3 separate regions of the Homo sapiens genome follow, and regions 1 and 3 are each linked to region 2. The links come from fine-mapping of genetic effects on gene expression. A gene starts in region 2. Each other region holds a variant in brackets. All regions are shown on one strand. Distances are between the middles of the regions.

The links.
Region 1: its variant is fine-mapped to the expression of CPQ in subcutaneous fat (GTEx, PIP 0.96). The same link has a PIP of 0.9 or more in sun-exposed skin and tibial nerve.
Region 3: its variant is fine-mapped to the expression of CPQ in whole blood (TOPMed, PIP 0.97).

Annotation. Positions count from the first base shown.
Region 1 is chr8:97,052,196-97,057,425 of GRCh38, reverse strand. The region is part of intron 6 of CPQ (carboxypeptidase Q); the gene reads right to left. All of the region lies in intron 2 of LOC101927066 (a long non-coding RNA gene), which reads left to right. Among named protein-coding and RNA genes, the nearest start is that of TSPYL5, 220 kb to the left of the region's middle. The variant A/G (reference allele first, on the strand shown) is at 2,976.
Region 2 is chr8:96,642,464-96,647,693 of GRCh38, reverse strand. It overlaps CPQ (carboxypeptidase Q), which reads right to left and starts at 2,452. Exons shown (of 8, transcript NM_016134.4): 1 at 2,292-2,452. RefSeq lists a silencer at 2,028-2,577.
Region 3 is chr8:96,936,051-96,941,280 of GRCh38, reverse strand. All of the region lies in intron 4 of CPQ (carboxypeptidase Q), which reads right to left. Among named protein-coding and RNA genes, the nearest start is that of CPQ, 290 kb to the right of the region's middle. The variant T/C (reference allele first, on the strand shown) is at 2,750.

The sequences.
Region 1 (5,230 bases), 410 kb before region 2:
TTCTAAGGGGAGTAATTACATGGCTCTTTATATGAGGAACGCTGGACAAAATAATGGACACAGTCTCCAATAACAGTTTTACAAAAGATGCAGAAACACTTTTCCTAACACTATTTCTTACATATTGATCCTCAATTAAAGCCAAAAGCAAAATATTAAGTCACATTTCAGTAAATGTGTTTTTTCAGGAAGCAAAATGTATTTATTCAACAGTTATTTTGACGTAAACTTGAGTGATAGGGTGACTATACATTTTTGTTTGCCCTAGGAAGTCCCAGTTTACATCCCCTGTCTTGGTGTTAATTAACAGAGCCTCCTTTCTCTTGCAGACATTTCCTGGTTTTAATAATAAATCATATTTCCAACCTACATATGAGGGTATCTATATATGAAGATGACTAAGATAGGGTTGCTTTCCTAAAGGAGGGGAGAGTTTACCAGCAGAGGCAATAACTGGCTAATACATTAAATGTGATGAGTTCTATGAATATGTACAAAGAAGGGAAAGCAACTACTGAAAAATGTTGGCAAAAGCTTGATAAAAGAGGTGATGTTTGGCCTCAGCAAATACCCTAGACTGAAAGTGTTCCCATGAGAGCAGGGATCTTGTTAGTTCATCAGCATATTCTCAGAACCTAGCTAACGGGCACTTGAAAATACTTGTCAAATGAACAGATGACTTTATTCTAAGCATCCAACTAATGTCCAGAATGTAGCTTTCCAAGAGAGGATCAGAGCTTAGGCAATCTCTAAAAGGATAAATATAAGCATGTTCTGTAGAGTATCTCACTCTCAAACATTGGTTGTCCCTCCTAGAATTTTTGTAGGCATTAGCAAAAAATTTAAAGTGGAAACCATTAGTGAGCACCAAATTTCAAACCTGTGATGGAGCTGCACTTGACATTTGTTTACTCCTGGAAATGCATTCTTGCCTTGGCTTCTGGAACCTCAGACTCTTGGCTCTTTTTATGCTTTACTGGATGATCCTTCTCATTTTTCTTGGCTGGTTTTCTCATCCTCCTGACCAATAGAAATTGGGGTGCTCAGAAACAGACTAAAGGCCTCTTCTTTTCTCTATCACACTTACTGTGTTGGAACCCTTATTTAGGCTCATGGTTTTAAATAAATCTGTATGGTGATGAGTTCCAAATTCATATTTTCATGCATCTCCTGAATTCTACACTCATATCCCACAGCTACTCAGTACCTCCACTTAGATGTCTAATTGTGTATTAGTTTCCTATTGCTGCTGTCACAAATTACCACAAAGTCACTGACTTGAACAACACAATTTGTGTGTGTGTGTGTGTGTGTGTGTGTGTGTTTTGAGATAGGGTCTCACTCTGTCACCAAGCCTGGAGTGCAGTGGCATGATCTTGGCTCACTGCAGCTTTGGCTTCCCAGGCTCAAGCAATCCTCCCACCTCAGTCTCCTGAGTAGCTGGGACTACAGGTGCACCACCACGCCCAGCTAATTTTTTTGTGTTTTTATAGAGGAAAAGTCTCGCCAGGTTGCCCAGGCTGGTCTTGAACTTTTGGGCTCAGGTGATCCACCCACTTTGGCCTCCTAAAGTGCTAGGATTATAGGCATGAGCCACTGTGCCCGGCCTAAAAATTTATTCTCTAACAGTTCTGGAGGTTGTAAGTCTGAAATAAGCCTTACAGGGCTAAAATCAAGGTGCTGGTAGAGTTGGTTTCTTCTGGAACTCCTCTCTTGCTTGTACACCCAAAATGCAATCTATCAACAAATCTTGTTGGCTCTATTTTCAACATAGACTTACTCTCCGACAACTTCCCATCAGTTTCCCTGTTCTGACTCAGTCCAAGCGACCACCAGCCTTCACGTGGAGTACTGCAGTAGCATCCTGTCTCCGTTTCAGCCCTTGCCTTCCTTCAGCCTATTTAGAAAATGGGAGAAATGATCTTGGTCAGGGAGAATCTGAAGGTGAGAGTTGAGTTATTATTTATTTGGCTTTATGACTAAAGAAGCCTCAAGTTGTCTACAGAATATGGACTTGAACCTCAAAAGGCTGAAAAAGTTAGCCACAAAACCATCTCTATCCAATTACATCAGCTGACTTATTGAAGGAAAGGTGGTGCAACCAATGGCTTTAGGAACTGGTGGCAACAATAGCCCTGGAGAAAGGAGAGAGGGGAGTGAGACATCAGGAGGAGGAAGAAAACAGTTCAGAGAGACTGATTCCAGTGAGGATCATGATGATGTGATAAAGGAGGCTTGTGGAGAATCCAGACCCTAGGACCAGGGGATCTTCAAGATGAAGAGACAGAGCCTCTAAGGGCACTATATTCCCTGGAGAGCAAAACCAACAATCACAGCATTGAAAACATAGAAGCTGAGCTTCCATTGGACAGGGGGACAGGGGTGTTGTGAGAGGGTAACTATTATTTTCCATTCAGATGGAGCATTTATATGAAGAAAACTCCATGCCTATGGCTATCTGTAGACTTCCCCCCTGAACTCTATACTTAAAACATTTTGTTATTTCAATAACTTTAGGGGTACAGTGGTTTTTTGGTCACATGGATGCACTGTATAGCAGTGAAGCCTGGGATTTTAGTGCACCCGTAACCCGAATAGTATACATTATACCCAATAGGTAGTTTTTCATCCTTCATTCACCTGCCATTCTCCCCCTTTCTAAGTCTCCAGTGTCCATTATACCACCCTGTTTGTCTTTGCATACCCATGGCTTAGCTCCAACTTATAAGTGAGGACATGTGGTATTTGGTTTTCCATTCCTGAATTACTTCACTTAGAATAATGGCCTCCAGTTCCATCCAAGTTGCTGCAGAAGATATTATTTCACTCTTTTATGGCTGAGTGGTATTCCGTGGTATGTATGTAACACATTTTCTTTATCCACTTATCTATTGATGGACAGTTAGGTTTATTCCATATCTTTGCAATTGTGAACCATGCTGTGATAAATGTACATGTGCAGGTGTCTTTTTGAT[A/G]TAATGACTTCTTTTCCTTTGGGCAGATACCTAGTAGTGGGATTGCTGGATAGAATGGTAGATATACTTTTAGTTCTTTGAGGAATCTCCATACTGTTTTCCATAGAGGCTATACTAATTTACGTTCCCACCAGCAGTGTATGAGTTCCCTTTTCACCACATCCACGACAACATCTATTGTTTTCTGATTTTTTAATAATGGCCATTCTCCCAGGGGTAAGGTGGTATCTCATTGTGGTTTTTATTTGCATTTCCCTGATGATTAGTGATGTTGAACATTTTTTCATATGTTTGTTGGCCATTTGTATATCTTCTTTTGAGAAATGTCAATTCATTGAACTCTATACTTTTTACCAAACTGCCTACTTGACCTCTCCACATGAAAGTCTGATATCTCAAACTTAACAGGTTCAAACCCATACTCCTTATCTCCCCCTTTTCCCCCTGCCTAACTCCCCTCATTTCAGTTGTTTGGGCCCCAAACTGTCAGTTTATGCTTGACTCCTCTATTTCTCTCATACTCCATATGCAATCCACCATCAGATTCTGTTCGCTCCTTCCTTAAAATATTATCTGCAGCCTGACAACTTGCTATGCCTTCCACAGCTATCATCTTGTTCCAAACTACACTCTTGTCTTGCCTAGGCTATTATCTTTCTTCCATTCTGGTTCCCCTTTAGTCTGTTCTCAACCAAGCAGCCAGAATGATTATTTTAGAAAGTTGATTCAGATCATGTTTCTCCTATGCTCAAAAGCCTCCCATAGTTCCAACCTCACTCAGAGAAAATGGCCCATGGGGCTTGACTCTGCCTGGGCTTCTTTATATTGACTTCTTGTCCTACTGCTTTCCTTTCACTGCTCCATTTCAAGCACATTGGCTTCCTCCCTATCCCCTGAATGTCAAGCATGGCCTCCAGCAGCACCTTTGGAACAACTCTCCATCTTCGCTAGAATGCTCTCCTCCAGGTATCCACGTGGCTCTCCTCTTCATCCTTTCAGGTCTTAACCAAATATTACCACCTCCATAAAGTCTGCCTTGTTCCCCTCTATCAAAAATTAAAACAGCCCCCTCCTCATGTACTCTATCTCTGCTCCCTGTTTTATTTTTCTCCTTAGCAGTTATTTTCATCTAACATACAATTTTACTTATTTATCCAATTTATTATCAGTCTTGATTCACTAGAATGGAAGCAAGATGAGGGCAGACCTCAAAACACTGCCTGGCACTTAGTAGGCTCTCAGTAAACATGTGCTGACTGAATGAATAAATATATGCATGTATGTGTGTGTTTAAACACATATGTGTGTATATTTGTATATGTGAACCCATGCGAGCATGTAACTAGATGCCATTTTGGATGATGGTGGTGGTGGTGAAGATAATGATTATGTTGATGATGATGATGTGGTTACTCATGTTGGTGATAAAATAACATCAGTTTTTCAGAATCTGTTTTCCTTTTTAAAAAAATGTTCTCAAGAAAACCTACAGTTCCACAATTAAAGTTATTAGCTGAATCTTTACTGTGTATGTTATAAAGCACTTAATAATATACAAATGTTTACAACATCCATTATAAGTGCTAAAACAAATGCTTTCCAGGAGGATATATAGAGTGATAGTGATTTTTTAAGAAGTGGCCATAAATTATCAAAATACAAGTGAAACTTCAAAGGTCCCTTCAATAATGGAATAAGATGCTCTTATTTTGGAGGCTAGGTGGCAAAATCTCCTCCTTCTCAGGTGAAAACAGGGCTGAATATATTCTCAGTAGACTATATGTCATCATCATTTTGCTATCAAAGATGAGACTCCCATATGTTAGACTCACCAAAATAACTTGGCCATTACTCAGGAGGAGAAGGAGATGAGCAACAGTAACTGAACTGACAACATAGAATTTAAAAAATATTAAATATATAATATTTTAAAACTGTATCTTTGTTGTGCTAAAGTTAGCACATCATGAGGCTTATAATGCATGTGTAATCAGTAAGACTCAATTACAGTAACTAATAAATGTGTCCTGGGACTACTTAGATTTTTAACAATCGCTTCACATATTTTGTAAGTTTTAAAATATTCAGGCAAGATGAGGAAAATAATAAACAGATGAGGCAATTTAGCTTTGAGAAGAGTTAACATAATTTAATGGGTATAGTTTAGATAAAGAGAGGCTAAGGAATTATAGCAATTACTGAAAAAATCCAAATAGGTACCTGTATTGAACTAAGGGAGGTGAAGAAAAACAATT
Region 2 (5,230 bases):
TGTGCTCTCATTCTAAATTCATTTACCCAAATAACCCAGGGTTTGTATATATGCTTGAACACACACAGAGACCACATTCTTCAAAGTCACACAGTTTTTCCTGGCAGGATTGTCTTGTTTCTGGGAGAAACCCTGTTTCCATCTGCTTGAGTTTTGAGTCCTAACTCTCCCATTTTCCATGTACTGTTTCTAGTTAAGAAGATCAAATAGGACTTACCATAGTATCTAGCTCTTAGATATATAGTGATGATTAAATGGGGCAATATAAGTAAAAAGGTTAAATATAACAGTGCCTGGTGTATGGTCAGTGCCCCATAAATATCAGCTTTGTAACATTCCATGCCTGTATGACACATGACCTCATTGGGAAAACAGTGTGAGAAAGTTGGCCCTTTTCACCAAGCAACATGTGTATTCCACTTCTCCTTATAAACTTGAATTCACTGAAGTAGGTAACATTAATTTCATTTTACTTAACACATTTGGAACTTTGTGTTTGTTAAATGTAGCATGCAAAAATATTTAAATATGTATGTATAATGACTTTTGAAGTGCCTTTAAAAAATCTCCAAGGTCCTTCCAGCTCCAAAATGTGATCTATGATAACTAATCTCAAATGCATGCGAAGAAATAGTGATGCAGTTCCCCAGATATACTGGGAATATATGGCATTGTCAGACTGGGTTGCACTGGAAAAAAGTCAGACCCAGGACCAGGAGCCTGTGACAATGTAGAAGAAAATCTTACCCTCCTTTCTCCCCACCAGCCTAGGGTTTATTACACTTATCTTGAGCTCCCAGGCTTTCTTGTTGCAGATGTGGAGAAGAAAGGAAATGAGCTGTAAACAGCAAAGAAGAGAGCAGAGACAAAATGCTATGGGAGGTGAAGTAAGCAGAACTCCATGAAATCATCTGTAATTTCACCTTCTAACCCTGATACAAAAGAATCCCAGAGGTTTAACTCAGGCAGGGTTCCTAGCTAAACATCTTCATTTTGGAGATTAAGAAATTAAAACCTAAAGAGATCAAGTGGCAAGTCCAAGGTCATCCAGCTCTTCTGGAACCTGGACCTGGCAAGTAAGAACGGCTGCAGTGACCAACTGTATTAAAGCTATGTGCTAAGCCTATTTGTTTACAAACAGATAAGCGTCTTTCTGGGCCTTATGTAGCCTTCTTCAGTCACCTGCAAATCAGCCAGCACCTGTCTCAGGAAAACAGACAAGATTCTTAACAACTCTGAATTCAAAAGAAAAGCCTGGTTTTACAAACAAGTCAGAGTCATATGGTTCTGCCTTCAGAGTCACCCTTATCTTTAAGAAATACATGAAATAATATTATAGTGACAATGATTCTTTAAACGTCCAAAGTAGAAGTGAACAAAACACAAGCAAGAAAAAACCTAGGCATATTTTGTTTTAAGCAAACACATATAGCCAAGTCCAACAAAAATGGAAATACCAGGGGGCGTTTCCAGAGACCATTTGAACAGCATAGAACTCTTTTTAAGTGGTCCCAATCAGAATGCCTCCATTTGCAAAAGTGCGACATTCACACAACTTTTTGGAAAGCTATCAAAAAACAGGAGTTGTAAGCCTGCGTCTCCACTGCTTCCACTTCATACATCTTTATTTTCACTCATGCACTGATTGATTCAGCTGTATCTCGTATGCACTCATTTATTCACTTACTCATTTGTTAATTCACTCAGTTCTACGGCATAGGTACTCATTCAATTACTTATTGAGTAGCTCTGAGTCCTAAGTCAGATGGGACTTTGCCCTCATGGAACTTCGATTCTAGGAGAGTCCAGTAGCAGAAACTAGACGCATCAAAAGCGAAAGTACACGGTAAAATGCGAAAGGAACCCCAAAAGAACTGCATAAGGCATATTGGAGGCTCAGGGGGACCAGGATTGTTTGCAGATGGGGGATGAAGGGGGCGGCTTGGGGCTGAGCCCTGGAGCTGAGGGGAAGTGAAACCGTGTTGGGAAGGACGGCTGAGGGCCGTGCTCGCTGCTGTCCCGCAGCACCCTCCACCACCCCCACGTCACAGCTTCCCCATTTCTAGGCTCGGTGACTCCACTGTCACCGAAGGGGCAGCCACAGGCTCCCAACCCGCCGCTCCCCAGCCAGGTCCTCCCGTCACGCCCCCGAATGAGCGATGCTGGAAGTCCGTCCCCCTCTGCCCCCGCCCCTGGCCTGCTCCAGCCTCAGCCCGCCCGACCCCCGCGGGTAGGAGCCAAGGCCTCGGCCCAGCCGCCCGCGGGCACTGCCAGTTCGGCTGCAAACACACCTGATAGGGCGGCTCTGACGGCGGCGACGGAGGCGGCTCCCAGGACTAAGCTCGCGGCCTAGCCTTACGGTGGCGGCGGCCACACCCCTGACTGGGCTGGGGCCCTCCGCGCCGCCCCGTGACTGCAGCCCTGCTTGCCGGCCAGGCCGCGGGGCCGAGAGGCGGGGCAAAGACCTGACTCGGGAAGCCGGGGCGGGCGCCGGGTTCGGGCTGGGGGCCACCTCCGGAACGCCTGGGGGGTTCTCACTCGCCCTCCAAGGGCGACCTCAGGGCCACAGATCGGCCGGAAGGCTTCTCAGCTTCTGGGCTGTGGCTCCTGTTAGAAAATTGAGTGTCGCCCTGGGTCCCGAGCCCCTAGGCCTGACTCCTTCGTGCAGGGGCGTCGCCTTCAGACTGGGTGGTGCGCAGGCCAGGGCCGCGTGCTTTTCAGAAGCGCAGCCTCAGGCGAGGCGGGCGGCAGGGGCCTGAGAAGGCTCATGGCTTGGCAGAAGGGTCCTGTGCTTCAGTGGGTGCCCGTGCAGGTGGAGAAGGACGGGGCTGCGAAGCTGAAAGGAAAACGTGAAAGGTTTTTGTGTGTCTCTGAGCCTGAGTAAAGGCCATGCTTTCTGAGCTGTCAAACGCCTCCCAAAGGGAAGAGATTATTAAACCGTTTTCCCACCCTGCCAGGTGTAGGATTGTTAGGCGGTGATGATGGAAGGCAGAGATGACCCGAACTGAGAGATCAGAAAAAGCGTTTTCTCTTTCGTTTGTGCCTGAATTATATGAGGGTGCCCAAGAAGAAAGGAGACTCATCTGATTACCCGGTGTGGCTTATCTCAACAAGTCACACGCATTCTGGTCACAGAGTATGTGCTCAGTGTTTTCAATGCTTTATGTTTTGATAAGTGCAAATTCCTTTGTTTAACGAAACTCTTATCAAATACAAACAGTTATCTTTGTGAAACACTGAGCAGTTCCAGTCTCTCCTCTTAACTAAAAAAACCAAACAGAACTTTTAATTAGAAAAGAAAAGAAAGAATAAGCACATGCCTACTGGGAAAAAAAAAATACCATAAAATGTGCAAAGTCCACTCACCTTCGGTTAACAGTCCCTCTAAACCTTACTAGTCCTGTTGCCCACTGAAACAAGTGTGAACTCTGAGGCATTGGAGGGTCCACATAAACATGGCCCTGGCCCACCTTTCCCGAATCATCTCTCGGATGCCATATCTAACCCCACTGAATTACTTTTTTCTCAAACTATCAAGGGTAAAAGACAAGTTTTTATTATTTCCAATCTGACATGGACCATTATTTCTGTAAAATACAAATCAAAACCTGCTAGCAAATAAGAAAAGAGACAAAAACTACAAGCCCAGTTTTTATTACAAGTGTACAATGAGTATGCCAAAAAGTATAAAATTAGTTTTTCAATTATTGGTTGTTGTTGTTGTTTTTATTTCTAAATGCTTACTCACAATTTCTATACTTACCTGTTCATGGAGCAGTAAAAAGCTGTTCACTGACTGGCGGTGGTTGGATTACCGTTTAAGTGGCACTGACTTGCTGTTCTTTAATTATGTCAAATGCTTTTCAACTTCTGGGCCTTTTCTCATGTTTAATGTGAACGAAGTTCTTTCCCACTCAAGTTTCAACTCGTAATAACAATAAAAGCTTCACATTTATTGAGTGCCTTGTGCTAAGATTTTTGATGCATTAACTGTGAATTCTTATTTGTCCTATGAGCTACCTATTATTATCATTATTATTTCCCCCCACTGTACAGATAAGGAGATGGAGGATTAGAGAGGTCAAGTCACAAAACCAGTGAGGTACAAAGTCAGCATTAAACTGAGCTGGCCTGATTCTGGAGCCCAAGCAATCAACCAACATGCTGGGCCCCTCTCTGTGAAACCTCCCCCATTTGCTTTCAAGTTGAAATTAATCACTCTTGCTTACACCTCTACTCTAACATTTTTTCCCGTTGGTTTTCATTCATGTCAGCTTCCCACGCTAGGCTTTAAGCTTCTGAGTACAGTGAATTTGTCTGCTCACACTAATCACAGGAAGCAGAGCTCATTCGCATCTTTGCATTACCACTATCTTTTATGCTTACTTCATGATATGTTTTAATTATTTATTCTTGTCAGCATCCTCTACTAAACCATACAATGTTCAGAGTTATCTTACCAAAGATGCTTTTATTTATTTAATTGAATAAGCATTTCTATAGCATGTATAATGAGCCAGGTACTATTCCAAGAATTTTAAAACCTCGCAAATAGACCTATAGATATTATTTTATCCCTCTTTAAACTGTGAGGAAACTAAGGCATAGAGAGGTTGCAGTAAGTTGCAGGACCAGAATTCCAAACCAAGCAACCTGCCTGGCTCCAGAATCTATTTCTGAGCCACCATGCTATGTTGATTTTCCACAATACCATGTGTTCTTCCTACTTAGAACACTTCACTGCAGGGAGATCAATCCATAATGGCCAATTAGAAGCCCCTGCCCGCAGCACTCAGGGAGGAATGAGAAGGGGCAAGTGAATTCAGTACCTTCAACTGAAATATCCAGGTTCTCTCATTGGGACTGACTAGGCAAACCACCGGCCCATGGAGAATGAAGAAAAGTTGGGCAGGGTGGGGAGCCCACCTCGGAGCAGCACAGAGCCAAAGGAACCTCCACCCTCAGCCAAGGGAAGTGGTGAGTGATTGTGCAACCCAGGAAACCATGCTTCTCCCATGAATCTTTGCAACCTGTGGATCAAGAGACCCCCTCATGACTCCACACCACCAGGGCCTTGAGTCTGATACACAGAGCTGTGTGTTGTCTTGACAGAGCAGCCACTCAGGCACATACAAAGAGGCCCAGAAGTTTTACATACTCTGGCCACAATCATCAGCAAGGCAGGAAATCCATCTGTAGGAAGGGGGCTGAATCCAGGGAGCCAAGCAAT
Region 3 (5,230 bases), 290 kb before region 2:
ATCCCAGCAGCTTGTTAAAAGCAGTTCTCCCCTACCCCACTGAATCTGCTTTCTGATTTCAAAGTTATATAAGCCTAGCAGCAGCAGCAGCAGCAGCAGCACCAGGGCACTCCATGTAGTACCCACATTCCATCCAGCCAGTTACCAAGTGCCAGATATGCTTCTAAGGGAGAGGGCCGAAAGCAATTTTGTAAGCCCCTGTGTTTTCATTTATGTGAATTTCTCAGCTTTTCTAGGTCAGAGAAACACTGGGTGATTACAAGCTCTTACTTATATGGGAGGGTGAAAAAGCATGCTGGCTCATTTTAAGGAGCTGACACCAGTTCCCAAGATTTGGGGAAAGAAGATGAAGTGCTTGAATGAATCCAAAAGGTATTCTTTTTAAGTATAATTAATTGATAGAACGTTTAATGTCTCCTGAAGGCATCGATAAAGAGATCATATGAGGTACTCTGAGTATTAAATTACCAAAGAAGACTAACTCCAGTAATAAAAGATGGGCTAGTTGATAGAAATTCAACTCCATGTAGCTCTTCCTACACTACAATGAGTAAAAAGCTGAAAACATTTTAGAGTATTGATTTGTTCATTCATTTAGCAAATACTCAGTAGAACCTACTTTATCTTAAGAACTGAAGTGAACTCAAGAAATACAGAAGTCAAGTTTCCTTCTCTCACTCCAAAAGACATCTGTCCATTCCTCATCATCCCATTTGCAGGCTACACAGTAATAATTCATTTGTCTTCTCCACTGGGTTTTAGTGAATCAGTGAATGAATACATAAAAGAAGCAAAGAAAGAAAGAACAAAACTAAGGAAGGATGAAGAAAGAGAGGGAGAGCAAGATGGAGCACTATTCCTTTCAAGAGTACACACAATCCAGTTTGCTGTTAAAGTCAAATTTGGTAAAAAGAAATATTTGGAGAACTGATGGTTTTCTCTTTTTGTATGTGAGCTAACTTCTCCATATGGTAGCAATGTTAACCTTCAGTTTTATGAACCATGATTTGTATATGGATTTCTACTAGAATTACATTTATTTTAGAGTTGGAAAGAATTGAAAGGCCCATTTGGCAGATTTGTTTTAATGTATTAATTATTTTTAAATATAATTTATTAGTAGATGACATAAACTTAGGGAACAATGAGGCAAAAAAAATAGGGCAAGAAAGAGAAAATCATTTTTACAGAGAAAAGTAGAAAAATATTTATTATGATAACAGAGTCAGACTCTCATTAAGTTTTTGCTTGGTATCCCTGAAAAGAGTATTGATGGTAAAAAGTTAAGCCTTCTGCAAATACCATGCACTAAGGAGGAAAAGGAACAACCAGAATTCTTACATACTTCTAATGGGAATGTAAATTGGCATAATCCCATTGAAAACAATTTGGCATTACCTAGCAAAGCCAAGTATGTGTAAACCTCGTGACCCAGAAATTCCACTCCTAGGTATATACCCTAGAGCAACTCTTGTATGTATGTGCCAGGAGACACGGACAAAAATGTTCATAAGCAGCACTGTTTGAAACAGCAAAAACTGGAAATGACCCAAAAGTCCATCAACAGTAGAATGGAGAGGTGAATTGCGGCATATTCACACAATGGAGTGTTATAAGCTATGAAAATAAATGAAGCACAGCTGCACACTGCAATATGAATGCTATGTTAAAAAAGCAAATTGTAAAAGACTATGTACAACTAAAACGGCAATTTTATAAAGCTTTTTAAAAAGTAACTATATAATATATTGTTTCAACATACTCATAATATGGAAAAACTATTTTTAAAAAGTATAAGAGAATTAACACAAAAAACTTCAGACTAGCATTGGCGGGGTGAGGGGACACAGGAAGACTGTATAGCAGGGGTCCCCAACCCCCAGCTAGCATACTGGTACCAGTCTGTGGCCTGTTAGGAATATGGCCGCACAACAGGAAGTGAGCATTACTGCCTGAGCTCTGCCTCCTGTCAGTTAGATTAGTGGCAGCATTAGATTCTCATAGAAACCCAAACCCTATTGTGAACTGCACATGCATGCTCCTTAGGTAATTCTAACTAATGCCTGATTGCCTGATGATCTGAGGTCAAGTAGTTTGATTGACTAAGGTCGATGGTATTAGTGATCTTAGGTTGAGAGATAAATTTACAGATGACTGTTTTATTGCTAGGCTTCATAACTCACATAGGTGGTACATATTCTGTTGTATATACCAACTATTACATATACATAATTTTAAAAAGTTCAGATACCTTGTATGACGAAATACTAAGCAGCCAATGAATAAAATAATTAAATTAGATCCATACATACTGATGCAAAAAGGCTTCAAGACAAATTGTGTTAACAAAAAGTCCCAGAATCGTACTACAGCACAATCTCATTTCTGTAACAAGGAAGCACAGAAAGTAAAAGCTCCTAAAACTATATGCTATGTATGTATTTGTACTGGAGACCTTCTGTTTGCCCCTCTGATCCACTCTCCACCTTTCTCCACTCAGCTCTCTGGCTAAGGGGGCTGACCTATATGGACTACATCAATAGGTTTTCTTGTTCCCTTGGCTTCCCATAGGGTTCAGTCAATGGGGGCGCTTAGAAGCAGAGAGGAAGGAGTGCATTTATTCCCAGCCCCTTTCCTGTGGTTGCTAAGAACTGGCTGCATCCCTCCATCACAGGTCTCAGTGCCCATTAGAGGGTCCTTTCTGCAGCACCCTTTCTGTGTCCAGGTTTCCATGACCACTTCCTCTCTG[T/C]GCCCCTTCAGATTTAGGGTTGATAATCATGATCCCCTGTGCTTTCCCTATACCCTCTCTACATCATATAAATAGTCCCTTTATTAAACTAAACCTCAATTATCCTAATTTGGTTTTGTTGCTGTTGTTGTTTAGAGACCAGGGTCCTGCTCTGTCACCTAGACTGGAGTGTAATGGCACCATGCTAGTTCATTGCAGCCTCAAACTCCTAGCCTCAAGCGATTCTTCCACCTTGGCCTTCCAAAGTGCTGGAATTACAGGTATAAGCCACCACACCCGGTCTAAATTATTCTAATTTGAATGTACCATCTGTTTCCTACTGGAATCTCAACTGATACAATTATATATGGATATGCAAGCATAGAAAATGGACTAAAAAGATACACAAGAGAAGGTTATCAGTTGTTAACGCTGGTGAAAGAAGCTAGAATTTAAAGAAGGAAAATATTAATGTTTTGGCCTTTACATTTCTGTATTATATAACTAACTTATTTCTAAGAGGAAAGTGTCATGTAATTTTTTGGGCAAAACAAAATTTTAAGAGTTCCAAAAAAATAATAATTTTTAACAATGCACAATCTGGGTAGTTTAAACAACAAACCAACTTCCTTTTATCTCAACATTCCCTGTGCCTAGCACAGTGCCCGACTAGCACAGCATGATAGGAGCGTCTAAGGAATGCAGACACTGTAATCCTGTGAATATTAAACCTAAAAGATATCTTAGAAGCAAGCTTAGCTTCTGTAAGGTTTAGTAATAAGAGGGAAGGGAGAAACACCTCTAGAGTCGCTCGACAGAGGCTTCCTAAAAAACATGGCAATTGACTGCGGGTATAGGCAACAACTGGACTGTCGGCTGGATCCTGGACTGCACTGTGCATACAAAGCTCACGTCCCAAGCCCTGTGCAGGCTGAGCTGTGTCATGGTCTCCAGACACTAGAATTTCACTTGACCATGTTCATACAAGTGTCTCTCCTAAGGTCTAAGGTCTGGCAGACTTCCAGTACTACTATCTCCTCTCTTGCTCCCCAGGGCCTGGAGGCGTTTCTTGATTATGAACTCAAGGCAAAATCCTTTGGCTACCATGCTATGACTACTGGACTGGACTCTATCTGAGCACCTGAAGCTGGGGGTGGCCACCGACACCTGCCTTACCCCAGCAGGGAGATTAAATTCAGGTCCAGGCTCCTCCCATCTGGCCCACTCAGCCATAGAAAACTAGCTCTGGCTAACTCAACTTGTCCTTCAAAACTCAGATTAGATGGCACTTCCCCTGACAAGGCTTTCCTGATTCCCTGAGTTTAAGTGCTCTCCTTAAATGACCCAAAGGCACTGTGTACTTCCTCTATCATAATATTTATTATACTATATTGAAATTGCCCATTTACTTGTGTGTAACCTCTCAAAAAACTGTAAGCTTTTTGAGGGCAAGACTAAGCCTTATGCATCTCTCAGTCATAAGAGACAATGACATAGAGTAGGAGTCATTAAATACTGGAAAGAAAAAGGGAGGAAGGAAAGGAGGGAATACCCAGAGAGGGAGGAGAGAGGGAGGAAGGAAGGAAGGAAGGAAAGATATCACATGCTGCTAAATCCATACATATGACAATACAAAATAAATGACCCTGTTTTATCTCCTCTAATGACTTTTAAAGCTATGGGAATGGAGAAATCAAGGTAAAGATAAAGTAATAGATACGTCATATGCTTACTGAGAACCTTCTCTCCACCAATAACTGCCAGGGTGATAAAATTGTGAGAAGAAAACAGACCATACTCCCTTCCCCAGTCTCATTCATATATGTGGAAAACTTTGTTTTTCAAACTTCTGATGTTTCTAAATGTTTTCATATACTTTCCAAATATCTCCCCAATATCTTTGGGATATTTAGATATTTCTGTATGTTTCCACTAATTGTTGACAGGCAAGAGATTTTGTGAGGTTGAGTTAATCAGCACTTGGTACAGCTATCAGAGACCTGTACTGGTTCCTCTGTGCTGAATTATCTCAAGAATTCTTTGCCAAAGTAATAAAAATTAATGTTTAATGTTGGCCTCTCTGTCTCTTTGATGGCCTTACTGAATTCTGTGGTATTTAAAGCATCACGGAAAGTAAATAATGAAGGTTTGATGTTGCTTTTTTAAACACAAATGAAACCATTAAGCAAATGAGTCAGAAATTATATAAAAGAACATTAGGAATTGAAACAGACCTGAAAACAATTTCTAAAAGATGTTAGGCAAAACTTCCATTCCATTCAGTCCAGAAATACTGCATTAGACCCACAGTAAACAATGCTACCTTTTAACTACCTGCCACCAATCTTACCTCCTTCCAATGTGGTCCCACTGTACCCCATTGCTGCACTGCATCTGGGTGAGGGAATGCAAGCACTTCATTCTTAACACACAAACCCTGAGTTTTCTCCAGGCACAAGAGAACTACACAAAAAGGCCACAAAAATGAGGGAAAGAATATAC